Regions from separate parts of the Homo sapiens genome. Here region 2 is linked to region 1. Evidence: fine-mapped QTL for protein levels in blood plasma. A gene starts in region 1. The other region holds a variant in brackets. All regions are shown on one strand. Distances are from middle to middle.

Region 1 (9,828 bases):
GCTGGTTAGAAAAATACCTAGTTGGTGAAGGAGTTGCTTAAACTTTAGCAAAACCCTCATGACCATTTACTGCTCAGAAGAGATTAACTATCTTTCTTAGCAGATGTGTAAACTCATTAGTGCCAGCTGGACTCATTTCAAGTTTTATTTTGGCAGGGCTTAAACTAAGAGGCAGCAAAAACTGTCTTTGTTTATTAAGGAGTTATCAGTGTAACTCCTTAAATACCTATGTTACATAATATGTATCCCCAAATCACTGGGCTCAATTAATTCTCATCATTCACTCATAAGCCAGACATGCTACCTCTCTCTAAGGTGTCTGAGAGAGAGGAAGACCATCTGCCACAGTCCATTTCTTAAATTCTTGGTTCACCTACCGAGACGGCAGGGCTCTCAGAGGATACAGTATCATACTCAAGGCATGGGAGGGGCTAAACAGGTCAAAATCAACTTCATTTGTTGTGGGGTCCAGGGGTGTGGTGGTGAGAAAGATCAGAGGCAGCAATCTGACACATGCAGAGGCGCTCCTGGACTCACTGCAGCTTTTGCATTTTTAAATTCTGGTATTTCATATTCTGCTTTAAGGTCTTGGTATGGTAGAAAGAACTTAGGTCTAGGTGTGATAGAAAGAATATAGGACTAAGAATCCAGAACTGTGGATTCTAGTCTCAGGTCTGCCAACAACCATGGCAGGTAAACATGACCAGATGCTTAACCTTTCTAGATCTCAGTTCACACTTGTGTAAAGTGAACATACTTATAGTTCCATTCAGCATTCAAATTACAACTCCATGCCTTATTTTTACAGAACTCCAGACTATTTTGAGCCTTTGTCTTTAGCCACAGACAATTTAACTGTCAATTGGTGTAGCAATGACAAATCAATCTGGATGACTGTTTTTCCCAGTTATCTCTAGCCTTGCACTTCCTGTTGACTTTGGACAAAGGAATTACTTTCCTCAGCCTTGAGGCAGCATTTTGGGCTAGACACTGGATTAAGGAGATAGAAGTGCTATGACATCCCTTTGGAGGCTGATTGTGGTGGTCATGTTGCTCCTTCCAAAATATTCTAAATGTAAATTCAGTAACGTCAAAGTAGTCTCCAGGAAATTCAGATTACCCTTATATTGGAAGATGTCTTTTTCATGGATATAAAAATACTCAATTATTTATGCAATTAAGAGGAATACTTTTTTTGTAATAACCTGGGTTAGTAATCTCAAACTTCTGCCAATTCCACTTCTTTAATTCTCCTTTCTCCATCTGTGGTCATAGAGGTTTTAAGGATGCACCCTGTTTGGCATAGAAAAGTAGAAGGAAACCAGCATTTCTAGAGCATCTCTCGGGACTGATTCCAACCTGCATCTACAGACCACACCACAGAAGGGTGAGAGGCCTGTTTTTGCCCCCCTCCCATTTCCACTACATGCCTTATACAGCAGCCCTGAGTGGGCTGAGGATTCTGCTCTGAAATCCCCTTGAAGCTCATTTCCCTAGAAGAGACTACCAGAAAGTGTGACAACTTCATGGGCAGAGAGGTGGTCTCTGAGCTTAGTTAAGAGAAGAGCTGACAGGAGCAAGGACATGGGCTTTAATTCTATAAGGCCATTTCATGTTGCTCTGTTTCCTGATGGGAGTTTGATGCTCCATCTCAAAATTGTGTGCCAAGGCTCTCAATGGGAAGTAGGATATGGGATGATCTGGATGAAGTTTGTGCCATTGTGTGAGGGGCTAAAACAATATCTTTGAATGCATAGGCATTTTCCATTTAATCCTCATAACACATCTGCGAGGTAGAGTTATTATGTCTATTAGAAAAGGAAACTGAGGCTCAGAGAGTTTTAAGTAACTTGTCCAATGTAGCAAGGAATAAAATCCAGGTATCCTCTGAATTCCAACTCTATTTTTCCATGGCACGATGCAATTTCCCAAAATGTCTGTCTTGATACAAAAGGGCTAATCTTTTTTTTTTTTTCTTTTTAGTCAGATTCAGAGTCTCACTCTGTCATCCAGGCTGGAGTGCTGTGGCACGACCATAGTTCACTGCAAATTCAAACTCCTGGGCTTAACCAATCCTTCCATCTCAACCTCCCATATAGCTGGGACTACAGGTGTACACAACCATGCCCAGCTAAGTTAAAATTTTTTTTTTTGTAAAGATGGAATCACACTATGTTGCCCAGGTTTGTCTCTGACTCCTGGCCTCAAGCGATCCTCCTGTCTCAGCCTCCCAAAGTGTTGGGATTACTAGCAGAAGCCATTGTGTCCAGTGGTTCATTTTTTTTTTTGTATGAGCGAAAGACAATCAAAAAGTGTCCAGCACCTGAGAACAAAGAGAAATGGCAGTAGTCAGTGCTCCATGAAAACTGAGTATCAGTCCTTGAATTTTATTTTAGTCTAAAGATATATTTAATTTTATTCAGAAGATAGATATAGGTAAGTTTGAAGTTGAGTCAACTTTTCTCCTGAATATGATTCTCGGTAAATGAGTGGTAAAATTCCCTCCCCTAATAATATTTTGAAGGAACTGGGAGGGTCTAATCTGACTTTACTCTGAATGTGTCATTCCAAAACTGGCTGTCTGTCTCAGTGGTTGGTGCATTAGAGCCAGCTCACACAGATTTTGGCCATGGGGAGCTCTGGCTCTTGGAGATCTTTTCCCACCTCGGCATTCAGTGATTCTGCAGTGGCAGCTTGAAATTGACCTTAGTGAGCACATTTACATCACAGAAATCAGTTAACTATACAAAGCATCCCCATCCCATTTATTTTTCCCTACTGGAGAGGTGATAATTAAACATTTATCCTTATAGTTTCAACTATCATTCTTAATCATAGACATCTGCTAATCAAAGCTGACAGCATTTCCAGATCAGGCTGGTTTTCCTAGGACTGTGACCTTGTAACATGACATCAGAATGACTGAAAACTGGCACAAGGATATAATGTGCAAAATACCTCAGATTATTAACCCACTTTGAGCAAGTGTGTCCTATACTTTTCAGGGCTTCCTGAAAACTTGAAAGAGAACTTCTGTAAACTACCCCCAGTATCCTCAGAAGTCAAGAATAATTATTTACTTGAGAATGTTGAATACAACAAGAGAAAAGGGGAAGGGAAGACAAGTATATTAAAATGTCTTCAAAAATATCTTTAATATTTTATGTAAAATTTCACTGTAGGTAATTGTTTGTATTAAAAAAAAAAGTGGATCACAAGCTAATATGTCAAAGGAACAGGGAACTTTAATGGATGCACTGACATTAGGAAATGTGTGGGAATACACTGATCTGGTCAAATCTTCAGAACTCCCCAAGGCTATCTCTCTGGGCTGCTATGGTTCTTCTCCAAAAACATAGATACATACAAAAACATAGCTTCATACATGCTTGGTTGGGGTGTAAAATGGTACAATCATCTTGAAAAAATCCTTTGGCAGTGTCTAACATTTCTAAGTATTTTATCCAAGAGTAATAAAAATTGCAGGTCCACACAAAGCAGCTTTTTTCATAAGAGCCCCCAAACAAACTAGAAACAACACAAATTCCAGTAATAAGACATTTGTGATATATTAGAATATTACTCAATGATTTAAAGGAACAGACTATTGATACACACAGCAACATATTTATACATTGTGGGATATTCATACGTTTTGGTAAATTCATACCTTGGACTACGCAGGAATTAAAAGAAACAGACTATTGATGCAGTGACCTGGGCGTATCTCAAAAACAGGAAGTGTGAGAAAGAAATACTACACAGTGAATACTTTATAATTCCGTTTATATGAAATTCAAGAATAGGCAAATCTAATCTATGGTAATCGAAATGAGAAGAGTGTTTGCCCCTGGCCTAAGGATGGAAGGATTGATTTAGGAAAAAGTCTGCAGGAGCTTTCTGGAGTGATGGAAATGTTCTAACTCTTTTTTTTTTCTTCTTCTTCTTCTTTTTCTTCGTTTCGAGACGGAGTTCCACTCTGCCGCCCAGACTGGAGTGCAGTGGCGCCATCTGGGCTCACTGCAGCCTCCGCCTCCTGGGTTCAAGCCATTCTCCTGCCTCAGCCTCCCGAGGGGCTGGGACTACAGGTGCCCGCCACCACGCCCGGCTAATTTTTTGTGTTTTTAATAGAGACGGGGTTTCGCCATGTTGGCCAGGCTAGTCTCGAACTCCTGATTTCAGGTGATCCACCCGCCTTGGCCTCCCAAAGTGCTGGGATTACAGGCGCGAGCTACCGCGCCCAGCCAAAATGTTCTAATTCTTTATTGGTGGCTACACAGTTGTCAAAATTTATCAAACTGTCCACCTACGATATATTATAAGCCTGTATTAAATGTAAATTAGAACTCGATTGAAATCTGTGTGTATAAATATAAATATACACTTATTTACATTTCTAATCTAATCTGAAGGTCCATTGCAACGAATCCCGCTCCGCTCTGACCCAAGAACTCCGCACTTTCTCTCCACCAGCCTTTCAAATACCTGAACTTCATGCCTTCAAGAGGTGGATTCCGGCTTCTTTACAGCGCAATCACTAGCAGGTCATTTCCGTCTAGCTTGCAGATTTCCCATTACTGACACAAACGCTCCCTCAGGGCGTCCCCGTCTGGACTACAGGAGAAAGTTTGGGAGGCAGGTTCAACTTTTCAACTTGGCGGGGAATTCCTCTCCCTCTTACACAGTTTGCAGCGCGGGGGCGGCGGGGTGACAGTCCCCGTGCATGAATCAGCCACCCCTCAGGCTCCGCCCCGGCGGGGGTCGGCCGGACGCTCGCCCCGCATAAAGCGGGCACCCGGGCCGCCTGGAGCAGAAAGCCGCGCACCTCCTCCCGCCAGGCGCTTTCTCGGACGCCTTGCCCAGCGGGCCGCCCGACCCCCTGCACCATGGACCCCGCTCGCCCCCTGGGGCTGTCGATTCTGCTGCTTTTCCTGACGGAGGCTGCACTGGGCGATGCTGCTCAGGAGCCAACAGGTATCTGGCCGCTCCAGGAGCTTCTCTCCCCAACCGGCGGAGAGGGCGCAGCGGGCCATGGGGCCCCGTGTAGGCGCCCTCCAAGCCTCGCTTTCTCCAGGTCCCTGCCGCGCGCTCCGCTGGCAGGGGGGACTCGCTCCCAAGTTTGCACTTTCTCTGCAGAGGCCCCTCCGCTCGGAAGGGGACAGAACTCCCCGGGATGTTCTTTCCTCCTAGGAGCTACGCCTGACCACTTTCCCTCTCTTTTGCTCTCCTTCTGCCCCTTCTTCAGGAAATAACGCGGAGATCTGTCTCCTGCCCCTAGACTACGGACCCTGCCGGGCCCTACTTCTCCGTTACTACTACGACAGGTACACGCAGAGCTGCCGCCAGTTCCTGTACGGGGGCTGCGAGGGCAACGCCAACAATTTCTACACCTGGGAGGCTTGCGACGATGCTTGCTGGAGGATAGAAAGTAAGTGCCCTGCGCGCACCCAGGACTCTCGCGCTCCTTGCGCCGGCGGCTGGTAGCAGCTTCGCCAGTTTCCCACGTCTCGCTTTCTACAGGAAGTTTTAGCCTGGGTTTTCTCAAGTGTTAAGCAAACCTCATGGTTTTCAGTTTCTTAAAAGTAATCACAAATTTACAACCACTAACACATTTCCTGTCTCCCAACTGACATTGATCATAATTCAGTGCCTGTGCGGACTCAGGGAAAGATTTGTTCCCTCACCATGGGGTATAATAAATGCAAGAGAATAACGTGTTAGGTACAACGTAAGTGCTTCTCTGTATTTTTCATTAATTCCAAACCTATGATTTTTATCTCTCCTGGAGTACATCATTTCCTTCTGTCGATTATCCATCAATCTGAAATATTTTTAGTGGATTTTATTATTGAAGTGTGACTTAGCTCATTATATAACTCTACTTTTGTCCCGATACCCAAACATGTGTTGGATTAGTTGCGGGACATGGTGGAGATTCATAATACTGTTATATTTTAATTTATTTTTAATTTTTAAATTATATCGGTTAAGGCCTGTAAGAGAACATGGGGCTTTTCCATTCAAGGAACTGAGCCAGGGGAAAATGCGTATTCATGTGAATAAGCTTTGATTCACTGCATATGTACAATCAGAGAACACCCAGAGAAAACAGAGAGTCTTTCTACTGAACTTGAAAGATACATCACAGCTGAGTCAGCTCTGAATACACTGTTAGAAAAAAAAAAAGTAAATATCTGGATTCATGGGAGTATTCTGGGTATTTACTATCCCAACACTAATACAACTTCTCTCCCCCCACAAAATGTTGCTGAAAATACAGTGATGGTTTAATAAGAAGGCTACTTTTGACTAACATTGTTCTATTACCCTCCTTTTCCTAGAAGTTCCCAAAGTTTGCCGGCTGCAAGTGAGTGTGGACGACCAGTGTGAGGGGTCCACAGAAAAGTATTTCTTTAATCTAAGTTCCATGACATGTGAAAAATTCTTTTCCGGTGGGTGTCACCGGAACCGGATTGAGAACAGGTTTCCAGATGAAGCTACTTGTATGGGCTTCTGCGCACCAAAGAAAAGTAAATACGATTTTTATGGTATTTCTATTTCACTTTTTTGAAAAGACATTTGGGTGGAAAAAACTCAATTTGATGCGAAATTAACATGTGCATTTTCATGATTTCACATTACTTGACAAGTTAGTGACTTGTCAAGTTCTTAGGACTGGAAAGTGACAAAGCCATGATTCAAATTTTTGCTTTCTGCCTCTTCTGATTTGTTGTTTTTGAGACGGACTCTCGCCCTGTTGCCCAGGCTGGAGTGCAGTGGCACAATCTCGGCTCTCTGCAACCTCTGCCTCCCGGGTTCAAGCGATTCTCCTGCCTCAGCCTCCTGAGTAGCTGGGACTACAGGCGCCCGCCACCATGCCCAGCTAATTTTTTTTTTTTTCTTCTTTCTCTTTCTCTTTCTTTCTCTCCTTCCTTCCTTTCTCTCCTTTCTTTTTCTCTTTCTTTCTTTCTTTCTCTTTCCTTCCTTCCTTCCTTCCTTCCTTCCTTCCTTCCTTCCTTCTTTCCTTCCTTCCTTCCTTCTTTCTTTCTTTTCTTTCTTTCTTTCTTTTTTCTTTCGACGGGGTGTCACCGTGTAAGCCAGGATGGTCTTGATCTCCTGACCTCATGATCTGCCCACCTCGGCCTCCCAAAATGCTGGGATTACAGGTGTAAGCCACCACGCCCAGCCCTGAATTGTTTCTTTAGAACTATTTCTCAGCTACTCAATTTATGCATAAAAGATTAAAGTATTCATTAATGAATGTTATGACCTCAGATTTGTACACAATAAGTTATACATGTGAGATAGTGGAATATATACAGAATTAAGATGGTGAAACTTGAAAATTTCTTTCTAAAGTTTTCGGTTAGATTTCTGTATTCTTCAGTAATTGCAAATTGCAGCACAAACATCTCCACACGTTTCTGTCCTATCCATTTGTTACCTCTCCCACCACCACCCCTGAATCCTTGAAATGATAGTCTCTTGAGTAGTATTTAATGTTTGCAGAGGGAGACAATACAGGCATTTCCCCCAGACACAGAGATTTTTGAAAAGTTCAACAAACAAGGAAAACTTGCTTTGGCAGAGAATTTGATAAAGCTTTATAGCTGTACTGTGTTGAATATGCAAAATCTTGAGTTAATGTGGTGATGGTTACTGTGGATGTTCTCTTGTTTGTGTACATATAAATGTTTGCTCCAGTGGTTACCTGGAAATTAGTATGCATATATTATTGATTAATAATGGAATGAGAGCTGTTAAAAACATTAAAGCAAAACTACCAACACGACAAAATTTACCAAATCATGCCACATATTGTCCTTGAAACTTACCCCATTTTTACCTAACCATATCTGGTATTTGGGTTTAACTTCTTTTTACATTTAAAGGATACAAAGATGTAGCTTCAGAAGAAATTCTATCCAGTTTACAAAAATTTAGAATTACCAAAATATAGCATGTAAGCTTACCTGCAATTTGAAGCACATCTTTTTAAAGGTTTAGTATGATATTTTGGATTCAGACTGAGGCTTCTATGGGATTAGATTTTCTTCAGTTACTTCAGTAATCACCATAATTTAAAAATTCTGGTATTATAACATTTCTAATTTTCTTCTCTTTTTTATAAAGTTCCATCATTTTGCTACAGTCCAAAAGATGAGGGACTGTGCTCTGCCAATGTGACTCGCTATTATTTTAATCCAAGATACAGAACCTGTGATGCTTTCACCTATACTGGCTGTGGAGGGAATGACAATAACTTTGTTAGCAGGGAGGATTGCAAACGTGCATGTGCAAAAGGTAGTGAATGTTTTCTTATTCCACCTTTAGATAAACTTTATAAATAACTTATCAGAAAAATTATATTTTTATTTATCCATTTTACTAATAGCAAATTGCTGTTTCTAGACTACTTCTACATAAGTATCTCCGTAGTGTTAATCAGTTTTGTCAAAATGCTTTTACTGGCTAGCTGCAGTAGACGGTAGCTGTATCTTCATATCTTAAAGGTAAAATATTATTAACTGAGTGTATAATGAGTTTTGACTTCACAGTCCTTAAAAATAAGATGAAGTGAGCTCAATAACCTTATCAGAAATAGTGATTTATAGTGAGCCTACAGACTGGAGATGTATGATTTTCATTGTCGTTTTATTGATTTTAGCTTTGAAAAAGAAAAAGAAGATGCCAAAGCTTCGCTTTGCCAGTAGAATCCGGAAAATTCGGAAGAAGCAATTTTAAACATTCTTAATATGTCATCTTGTTTGTCTTTATGGCTTATTTGCCTTTATGGTTGTATCTGAAGAATAATATGACAGCATGAGGAAACAAATCATTGGTGATTTATTCACCAGTTTTTATTAATACAAGTCACTTTTTAAAAAATTTGGATTTTTTTATATATAACTAGCTGCTATTCAAATGTGAGTCTACCATTTTTAATTTATGGTTCAACTGTTTGTGAGACTGAATTCTTGCAATGCATAAGATATAAAAGCAAATATGACTCACTCATTTCTTGGGGTCGTATTCCTGATTTCAGAAGAGGATCATAACTGAAACAACATAAGACAATATAATCATGTGCTTTTAACATATTTGAGAATAAAAAGGACTAGCAAATAAAACTCATTTTGCATTTAAAAGTTGGATTATATTTTAGTCCCAAGAAGACAAAGTCGCAGATTAACAACACTTTAAAAATATTACTCCCATTTTATTGTGTTAGATTGCAGTACAATGAATGAATAAGGGGATTTATTTAAAAGATCTTAACTTTCTTGACTGATTTAAAAAGCTAATCAATTTATTAAAGCCAGAAATGTTCTCCTCTGGGAAAGCAATTTCTATCTATTTATCTACCAATCCCCACTCACATGTATATGTTTGTGTTTACATAGAGATAGATGGTTTTAAGGGTTTTCCTATTGTTAAATTATTTCCTAAGACATTGTGGGTTGGAGACCACTAAACTTATAAAAAACCAAGGAAAGTAAAGTTTTTCAAATGTTTATACTGTTTAAGGTGTTTATTTATATAAACCATGCATGAGAAACCATGCATAAATTTAATAATTTAAATTTCACCAGTAAATTATCATTGATTAAATATGGTCATACCAATGAAATAGGTTTTTTCTTTCTCTGTAATAAAACAATTTTTCTAAATTCTTATGTTTTCATAGCAAGATTAACATATTTAATTACAAATTAAATATGCAAAATGACAAATGCGTTTACCTTTTGCTTGAACAATCTTTCATTTAAAAATTTATCCCAGTTATTTTGACAAATAGGTATATGCCTGAGAACTTTGAATGATGCT
Region 2 (9,828 bases), 60 kb before region 1:
ACCAGTCTCCCAAAGTTCACTCATATTTCAAATCTCATTTCAGACTTCTCATGCATGAAACTCTTATGTTTTAGAATTAACCTATACTCATATTAACAGTAATCCCTCCCTTTATAATTAATCATTTTAGGTATTCTAAATATTGCCTTAGAAACACTTACATCTCATTTGGTAACAAAACTTTGAGGAAAAAAATGCCATAAAGCCAAGAGGTCTGGGAGAAGCATTTGGATGTGAAGAGTAAGGAAGGAGTAGGGGTCAATGGTGTTTCCTAGGTGTCTAGCTTCAACAGATGACCTTTGACAAGAAGCATGTTAGGGGAGCTAGAGATAAAAATCATTACATTTTATAGCATGCTGTATGAGATATAGCTGTGTACCATTGGCATGGACTCATAAGAGTGACAAAAACATAAAAGTTTTTGTTGTAGTTGGGGCCACGCAAGTAGGTCTATTTCTCTATTTAAAGCATTCAAAGTAAGAAAAGGTCAAGGAGAAAAGTCTGCAAACCAGTATTTGAGAATCAGACAAAAGAAGAGATTCCAACTTCTATTTAGATAAAACTCATATAATGGATAAAATCAAATGCTTTGAAATATTTGATACCATGTTGATAGATTACAACTTTCATTATATGTATCTTGTATACAAAGCAGGGCACAGCATCATAAAATGAAATTAAATCAATCTAGCAGGAGCTGCATTCCTCAGGGATTCACTCTAGTGTCCCTACGACCACCCCATCCCCAAGAATCTTTGCCTTGTGGCTCTGCCTGTGAAATTTGAAGTTTTCTATTTCATCCAATGGAAGCTAGAATTTTTAAATATTTGGTTCTGTCTCTTAGGCCCTTAAGCTCAAGGATAGCAAGTACTAGGAGCATGAAGCACCTGTTGAAAATATTACATGTTTGCTGGAGAATTCTTGCAAGGTAACAACAACAACAATAACAACTGCTATAGGGAAACTTGCAGAAGAGATCATGCGTTTCTGTAAATACCTGTAACACTTCTTGCTACAATGTGTTATATAAAATAAGTAGAAACTCTTAAAAATACATAAGTCATTTTTCATTATTATCTTACATCATGCCAGGAACCCCATCTACTCCTCTGTGTTCCTTGAGTGCACTCAGTTTCGTTTTCAGCAGAAGTTGTGTCATACACTCACTGTGCAAAGCTGACAGTCCCTAACATCATTTGTTTTGATGAGGGTTAAAGAAAGGGTATTGTTGTTTCATAAAAACAATGTTGAATAAATTTATAAATAACTTTGTAATGATGAATTGTTTATACACTGCTGTTGAATTACATGCGGGCAAAACATCAATAAAATTTCTAAAAATTCATTTGGCAGAATTGCTTTTCAAGTCTCTCAACTCTTTTACTTAAAATAAAAAGCTAGACTGGACACTAGACATTGCATAGCCCATCCTTTGACATCTTTCCAGTTCTCTTAATCCTTGATGTAACTCTGTTGAATTAGTGTGAAAATAACCAATAACAGGCTCCTGGTTATACATTTGTATGTGTGTAAAATGTGTGTGTACATTTGTATGTGTGTAAAAGGGAGAGAACATTCAGGCATAGAGTCAATTCTGCTCTTTACCATGTTTTTCAAACTAACAGCAGGTATGGCCCACTAAACCTTCATTGTTTTAAATTTAACAAGGGGAGGGGATTTCTTCCATTTCTTTATAAAAGTTCTCATAAAAGACGAACTCCATTGAGACTAGGTCTAAATATTAGGTATATCTGTTTTTGCCCTTCTCCAAAATGCATATTCTATTAGTAACTGGACAACAAAAAGATTTTAGAAGATTAAGTTTACAAACCCTTGGGGAGGAAAATGACTTGTGCTACCAGGCACTTAACTAAAGCAGCTCTGGCAGGGACAATTATATTATAATCTATCACCAGAGAGCACACAAAGATGCAGAATACATAATTATCTTATCAATAAGCAGAGAGCAGTGGCAAAACTCATTTGAATTAAGAGCCAAAAATGTAAGTCTCAAGGAAATTATAAGGTGTCAAGCAATCAGTAATATTGAGATGAATTTTACTGGGATGCAGGAAGGTTTGCCTAAGAATGAGGAAAAAGCAGAATTGAGAAGAACTTCTTGAAATATGGCCCTTACACCAAGTACGAGGCAGTGATGATCTGTCTACCCTAGAGGGAAAGATGTCATTCTTAAAAGGACTCAATGTAAGGTGCAGGAAAATAAGGCCTGTTGAAGTCTGAGGGTAGAGGAAGAGAAGTGACAAAAATTCTGTAGCACTCCAGACCTTACACTAAGCATATCTTTCTTACACAATGACAAGCTGTCAATAAAAAAAATACAAAATACATGAAAAAGTGAGAAAATATACCATTAAGAAAAAACAATCAAAAGAAAACTAGGTATGTGTATTAGTCCGTTTTCACACTGCTGATAAAGACATACCCAACCGAGACTGGGCAATTTACAGAAGAAAGAGGTTATTGGACTCACAGTTCGACGTGGCTGGGGAGGCCTCACAATCATGGCGAAAGGTGAAAAGCACTTCTTACTTGGTGGTGGCAAGAGAGGAGAGAGTTTGTGCAAGGAAACTCACCTTTTTAAAACTATCAGATCTCGCAAGACTCATTCGCTATCAAGAGAACAGCAAAGACCTGGCCCCGTGATTCAATTATCTCCCACTGGGTCCCTCCCACAACACATGGCAATTATGGGAGCTACAAGATGAGATTTGGATGGGGACACAAATCGTATCAGCATGGAACACATATTAAAATTAAAAATAATAAATATTTATTGTTATTATTTACCAAGAGCATCATCAGCTCAATGGTCCTCTATCTATGCAAGCAGTGGTTCTCAAAGCATGGTTGGAAGACCAACAGCAACAGCATCTTTTGGGAACTTATTTGAAATGCAAATTTTTTGGCCCCACTCTAGACCTACAGAAGCTTTGAGGAAGGCTCAACAATTTGTGTTTTGACAACCCTCCCAATGGTGGTGATGCATACTAAAACTTAAGAACTACTAAAACCACTATATTAAATAAATTGAATTCATCATCATAAACAAAGATAACACTAGGCCCAAACACCTCCCCTCATGAATATTATTAAGTTTGCAGAATGAAATAATAGAAATGATACAAAAACATTTTGCAAAAATTAAGGAAAAGGAAATGGTTTTGAACTAATTTCAGGAGGCCTGCATAACCCTACTACTAACCTGATGAAAATATTGTAAGGAAAGGAAGCCATAGACCAATATTCTACGTAAAATTATATATGAAAATTTTAAACAAAATACTAGATAATTTAATCTAATAACAGAGAAAAAGATAATACATCATGACTAAGTGAAGTTTATTCCAGAAACACCAAGTTAGATTGACAACACAAAATCAATCAACCCTGCAATTAGTAGTATTAATGAAATAAATAGAAATATTATATGATCCATTTAATAGGTGCAGACAAGGCATTTGACAAAATTCAATACCTGTTAATGTTGAAAATCTCCCATCAAAGTAGGACTGGAAGAGAAAATTCTAAATCTGATCAAAGAAATCTATTAAAAAACCAACAATTAACTTCCTACGTAATTGTGGAATGTTATACTTAGAACTCTTAGAACAGTTCCCGGCACAAAACAAGTACTACGAAAAAGATTGCAAAAAAAGTAATTACTCAAATTTTTCATTCATCTTGTCATAAATGCTACAAGTAACTACATGCTGTAAAACTTTATGACATGATATAAAGTAATTAAATTTTATCCTGGCAAAATTAAATATTCAATAAATATTTTTCTTAATTTAATGGCATTCTGAATATTTTAAGACAGGAAAAGAGAGATTTTGAATCATAAAAAGTTTTAAACATTTTCATTATTTTCCTTCTCTCTAAAGAATGGATAATGTTTTTCTATTTTCATAGACTGAAAATGTTTGCAGCAGCAATACACGTTCCCAACTGTGTGATCATGTGTTTGCATGTATCTGATCTGTTATTCACATCAGGATTCCTTTTTATCTTGTCCTACTTCATGTATATGTCTGAATGAAGCCTGGTCTTTCCATGCAGCATCAGAGGTCAGTAAAACACATACATTTAGGTGGTGACTCAGTGGTTCCAACTGGACCTTAGTGTCCCAGTCATGTTTCCAACACAGACCTTCAAATTCAAAAGCTTATTTAAAGAACTGCAGTTATTTTTCCACTTCTGTTCAGGTTTCTGAAGGATGAAGGTATTTTTTCCTTAAAATGCCATCTTGAGTTATGAGCTACCCCTAACTTTATTTCAAGCTTTCTGAACTTGAGTCCTCTCATCAGAAGAAAAAAGAAAACCCACCTTTATCCATAAAAGGAGGAGGAGACTGAGTCAAAATAAGATTAGGCAATTTAAACTGCTGCAGCCAGTAAGGGCCAGAGCTGAGATTTGAACCCAGGTAGATAGGGCCCAGACTTTCAGTTCTTAAACATTGTATATACTGCCACTCAAATTAAAATCATTTGCTTGATGTCTTCCATAAGTTGTAGGTTTCACAAAGTCATCAACCATTTACCTTGTTCACAGGACCTACCTAGTACCTAGATTTCCAAGAAACAGATGTTGAATAAATGAATCATGTCAGGTAGCAATTATCCCTAATCTGCAGATGAGGAAACTGATATTTACAAAGCCAAAATAATCTAGTCAGAATCAAACAACTAATACACACAAAATTTGAACCTGAACCACTCTGAATTCAAATCTTTTCCTCATTCTTTTTCATACCACACCACAATAACTATTCTCTAGAAATCTGAAAATCTTCAAAAAATGGATAAACAAGAGGAATGCAGTTGGGGAGGATTTGTCCCCTTGAAGGATGTATATTAAATCACATCTATCATGAGGCCTTTAAGAGTACTTTATAAAAAGAGATACTCATCGTCACCTCCTGGTGATGGCAAGGGCCTTGAGGTCCCAGATATGATAATGACTATTGTGATGATGATGATGATAATGACCGAAATAATAATAATAATAATTCCTAAAATAAAGAATTAGTCTTAGTACCAGAAACAAAAGAGACTGAAGTTCTACTCATGGAGCGTAATGTTGTTTACCTCAATTAGGCCATTAGGCATCATGCATGTAAACTTTGATGTATTCAGTAAAAGAGATCTACTCTTTTCACATACAGAAAATTAACTAGGCAAGTGAAAAATTCACTCAATTCAGCCATAACACAACAAATATCGATTTAGTATTGTCACTAAAATAGCACTTCACAATCTAATGGACAGTTTTTTAAAAAAATTTTAAGCTTTTTACTTTGTATGTATCTTGACGCTGCATGAAATATCCTTAAAGAGGAAAGGGATACGTTTAAGTTAAGGAAGGAAAACTGGACTGAAAGATATCA[A/G]TACAATTGTAATAAAAAAATTCAAAGGAAGTAAATCAATGTGCTCATATTCTTTACAGATTCATAGCTCAAAATGGAAAAATTCACATTTTAGCAGATGGCTAATTATTAGTGTAACAGGAACAGCATTCATGTCATGAACAACAAACTCAGTAAGCCATTATCTTAATAGTGATGTTCAGTGTAGTTCTATCCTGTTACATTCAATTGTTTTCTTCTTAAAGAAGGAAATTGAAAAAGAATTGGAAAAGCAGACATTTGCTATCATTCAGGGTTAGCTGCAGGCACAGCCACAGAGCATATTGACGTAAATAATGGACACTTACTGTCCAGACAAGGGGGTGACTCACTCCCAGACTGGCTCTCTGGATTGAATTGTAATTACTAGAAACTTTCACAATTTTCTGCCTCATGTTGTGAATAAAAAGAGAGCACAAATTTATGTTTAATGGTCAAATAAAACATTTGTTGGTTTGAGTAACCTAATCTAATCTTTTGATCAATCTTTTGATCACTAAATGACTAAAATACCATATACTCATTCTTAAAAGTTGCAAGAAAAGGAAATATAATCAGTAAGATATGTGTTGACAACAATCTGTAAACAAAAGACTAAGCTAAAGTATATTGTTCTTACTTTCATCCTTTCTGTTCTTCTTCCCTTCTCTTATTCATTCATTCAACAAATATTTATTGATTACCTATCATGAGTAAGTTTAAGTGTGTAGACACTTGTACTACACATCCAGCCCACATAAGTGAGCTAGCATACCATATTGAAATAGGGCAGTATATGGTGGATAACATCTCAATAATAAGCAGTTCAAACAACCGTGATTGGGGAAGCTAGATAAAAAACAGCTTCCAGATGGGAGTAATCAGGTAAGGCATCAGAGACCCTTCTTGAATCTCATCAGGACTGCCAATCCAATTACACCCCTCCCTTTCTCCCTCTCTCCCTTTTTCCCTCCCTCCCTCCCTCCTTATCTCCCTCCCTCCGTCCCTCCCTCCCTTCCTCCCTCCCTCCCTCCCTCCCTCCCTTCCTTCCTTCCTTCCTTCCTTCCTTCCTTCCTTCTTCCTTTTTCTCTCTTTCTTTCTTTTTTTGTTAAACCTACTGGCCTTTTCTTCCTTCATTTTCCTCTTCACAATATATATTCCACCATTCCAATAACAATCTTGAGGACAGGTGTGGTGGCTCATGCTTGTAATCCCAGAACTTTGGGAGGCAAGAGGACTGCTTGAGCCCAGGAGTTCAAGATCAGCCTAGGCAACACAGTGAGACCCCTATCTTTGCAAAAACTCAAAAAAATTAGCTGGGCATGGTGGTGGACAACTGTAGTCCCAGATGTTTGAGAAGCTGAGGCAGAAGGATTGCTTGAGCTTGGTAGGTCAATGCTGCAGTGTGCCATGATCTTGTCACTGTACTCCAACCTGAGCAACAGAGTAAGACTCTATCCCTGAACAGAAACAAAAACAAAAACAAAAAATCCCCAAAAAACATTCTTGGCCACATTCTAAATGTACTTATGTCCCATATTTTGATCACACTGGTCTTAACAAACCAGTCCTTAATAAACCCACATATTGAGTCTTTCTTCATTTACATTCTTTTCTGGCATTCCAATAATTTTTTTTTCAAATTACTTTGCAATGACATTACTCTGCAATGACTGTTTCAAACCGTTTACATTCTCCTGAAACTCCCATCCCTACTACTTCCCACTTCTTCCTTGGTGTCAGAGGTTGATGTCACTTACTATCTCAAAGGGAAAATAGATGCCATCAATTGGACATTTCTTCAATCTCTAAATCACATGCTCTAAGCCACCAAACACACATGTCTTTTCTCCTCACCCATGTCTACTCTTTGTCTTTTTGCAAGACAGGAGGTGGCCTGCTCCTTGCTCACACTAAATCTCCTGACTTTTGAGCTTATCCTCTCCCCCTATCTTAGGAACTTTACTCAAATGTTTTTTCTCTTTGCATTATCTTCTAACTTTCCCATTAAACCTGAATATTTTTAATGGCTTTTAAGCTACCTCCAGCCACTCCCAAGAAAGAAGATTCGTTCCTCATTCTCTTTCAGCCACAACAAGCTCTCCAGAAATATTATACATTTTTGCTGTCTCCACTTCTTCATCTCTTGATCACTAGCCAACACTAATCTGGCTTGACCCTTTACCACTCCACCAAAAGAGCTCTCATCAATGTTCCCAGTGGCCCATGTCACTAAATTCTATTCCCCACCACCCACTTGTTTTTGTTTTTGATTTTCATCTCTTTTGATTTCTTAGGAACATTGGAAAATATCAAATACTACATTCCTCTTGAAAAACTTTCTTCTTTTGACTTGTATCATATCACATTTTCCTGGCTTTTCTCCTGTATTTGACCACAACTTGCTGGTGTCTTTTGCATGTTTCTTCTTCCTACTCCCAAGATAACTATTAGCCTGCCTTCAGGCCATGTCAAGTCTCTCTTCTGCTCACTTTTACAACTCACCTTAAGCAATCCCATGGTATTAGCTAGCATCCATGTCTTTGTTGGACATAAATCTTATGCCCCTTCAGAGATGTCCCTCGACTGCCTCCTTCTTTTTCTTTCTTGGTCAGTGCCCCACCTGGATGGACCTGGTCACACCTCTACCTCAAGGCTAATGCTGAAGTTGTTTGAGTTGGCTGTTAAAGATTGAGTAGAATTTTAAAAGATGGAATATAGAAGTAGAAGAATTAATTCCAGAAATCTAAAGTGGCAAAACAAAAGTGCACACTCATAAAAAAAAAATCAAGGCAAATTTTGGAATCAGCAAGTAGTGTGCTTGACATGAGCACAAGCTTTAAAGGTAGGTTAAGCCTGGCTTATGGAGAATTTGGCTGTCAGAATAAGGAGCCCAGTTCTCATTCAGTAGATAATAGCAATCCCATGATGGTTTTCGACAAGAGACATATGGTTTTAAAACAGTGGTTTAAGATGGCAAACCTAAAGATCTTTTGCAAGGTGGCTTTCAGAAAAAAGACTATAGAGACAGGAATATGAAGCTGCAATGTAACTATTTTAAGCTTTCTGTTTTGGGGTGATAAAAGCTTTAATCGAGAAGACAATGGAACCGGGAGGAAGAATGGGGCCCAGAAAACACACTGAAGGACAGCAACTAAATTTGGCATGCCTGATATGCAACAGATGAAAACACAGGTTAAAAAGTCTCCTTAAGGTTAAAAGTAATTGGAAAAAGAAAGTCACTGTTTATGTTCAGAAGGGGAGTTGAAAATGTGAAACTCACCTCTAAGAGTGAAGCCTGGAGTACTCACATTAATTTGAAAGCTGTAAAGAGATGATAGCTGAAAATTTCAAAGTTGAGTTTTCCAAAGAGAAGGACGTAGAGAAGGGGAAGAGAAGAAAGTCAAGAATAAGGCCTTAGGAATTATATAAAATGTTAACAAAGGAAACACAAAAAGAACAAGCAAAGAAGAAATTCATTTTGTGCAGGGCTAGATAAGCCAGAGAAACGGAGCAGGTCAAGAATGCTACTGAGAGGCTAAAAGGAAAAGAAAGCATTTGGCAAATTCCAAGAGTTTAAAAATCCTTGCAAGGAATTAAGAAGAGATTGATGAAACAGCCTGGTGTTTTAACAGACATTGTGGTTAAAGGGGGAAAAATGTTATAATGTGCTAGTTTAAGTAGGGAGTAGAATTGGTGAAAAGTCTGTGGCTTTGCATGCTTGGTTAAAGCCAAGGAAAAACTGACAGCATATTTTTAGTGAGGAGGGGCAATTATTGGAGAGAAGAGACATAATAAGGTAAAGAAGTGACTAAGTGATGAACATTTAGGAAAACGGAAGAAACTAAAGGAATTAAAGGAACTGGGAAAGATAAGTTATTTTAAAAAGGAAGGACACCTTGTCTTGGATATAGGAAGTTATATCGTGGTTGAAAATAGATTAGCTGTGAAGACCTGAGAGCGATGTGCTCAGAAGTCTATTCAAACTGGATGAGATAAACTTTGCAGACACTACTGGAAAAGAAAGATAAGGGAGGAATCAGATCACATGCAGTTATATGTCTCCTAAAATAGCCATGTATTAGGCAGAGAGGAGGGGCTGCCAAAATAGTTTTTCAGCATTTCTTTTGGAAAGCGATTAATGATAAGTTTTGCCCAAATGATTGTATTTGCTATATTTTGGAAAGTCTAAACCTGGGAAAGCAAATAGGTTTAACATGTCATGTCAACTCCAATTGATTAGTAAACCTGCAGTGCTATTGGAAAAGATTATGAGGGCTGTTCTAGCTCGGTAAGAGAGCACTCAGTGACTGATTAGCAATATCTACTTTGAGCCAAGCATAAAGGGTTGATATATTTGCTAACTCTGGAACCATAACTGTAAGTTATTTAGTCCAATTTTCTGACATACAGATCAGAAGCAA

Which allele goes with the higher level. Alleles are on the strand shown, and positions count from the first base shown. The strength of an association depends on the size of the effect and on how common the allele is.
With allele A in place of G in region 2, the plasma level of the protein whose gene starts at base 4,812 in region 1 is lower (moderate association).

The links. A credible set is the group of variants that fine-mapping cannot tell apart. PIP is the posterior inclusion probability: the model's chance that the variant is causal. Protein levels are from antibody-based Olink assays in UK Biobank. Linkage for the fine-mapping came from a reference panel and not from the study's own genotypes, which makes the PIPs less certain.
Region 2: its variant is the best candidate, but not a certain one, in a credible set for the plasma level of the TFPI2 protein (UK Biobank, PIP 0.54).

The regions. Positions count from the first base shown.
Region 1 is chr7:93,885,737-93,895,564 of GRCh38, reverse strand. TFPI2 (tissue factor pathway inhibitor 2) reads left to right here and starts at 4,812. Exons shown (of 5, transcript NM_006528.4): 1 at 4,812-4,974; 2 at 5,246-5,428; 3 at 6,342-6,530; 4 at 8,134-8,304; 5 at 8,669-9,828. The coding sequence starts at 4,887. The coding sequence ends at 8,745. It overlaps TFPI2-DT (TFPI2 divergent transcript), which reads right to left and starts at 4,671. Exons shown (of 2, transcript NR_134235.1): 1 at 4,486-4,671; 2 at 1,977-2,323.
Region 2 is chr7:93,945,560-93,955,387 of GRCh38, reverse strand. No RefSeq gene overlaps it. Among named protein-coding and RNA genes, the nearest start is that of BET1-AS1, 18 kb to the left of the region's middle. The variant A/G (reference allele first, on the strand shown) is at 5,408.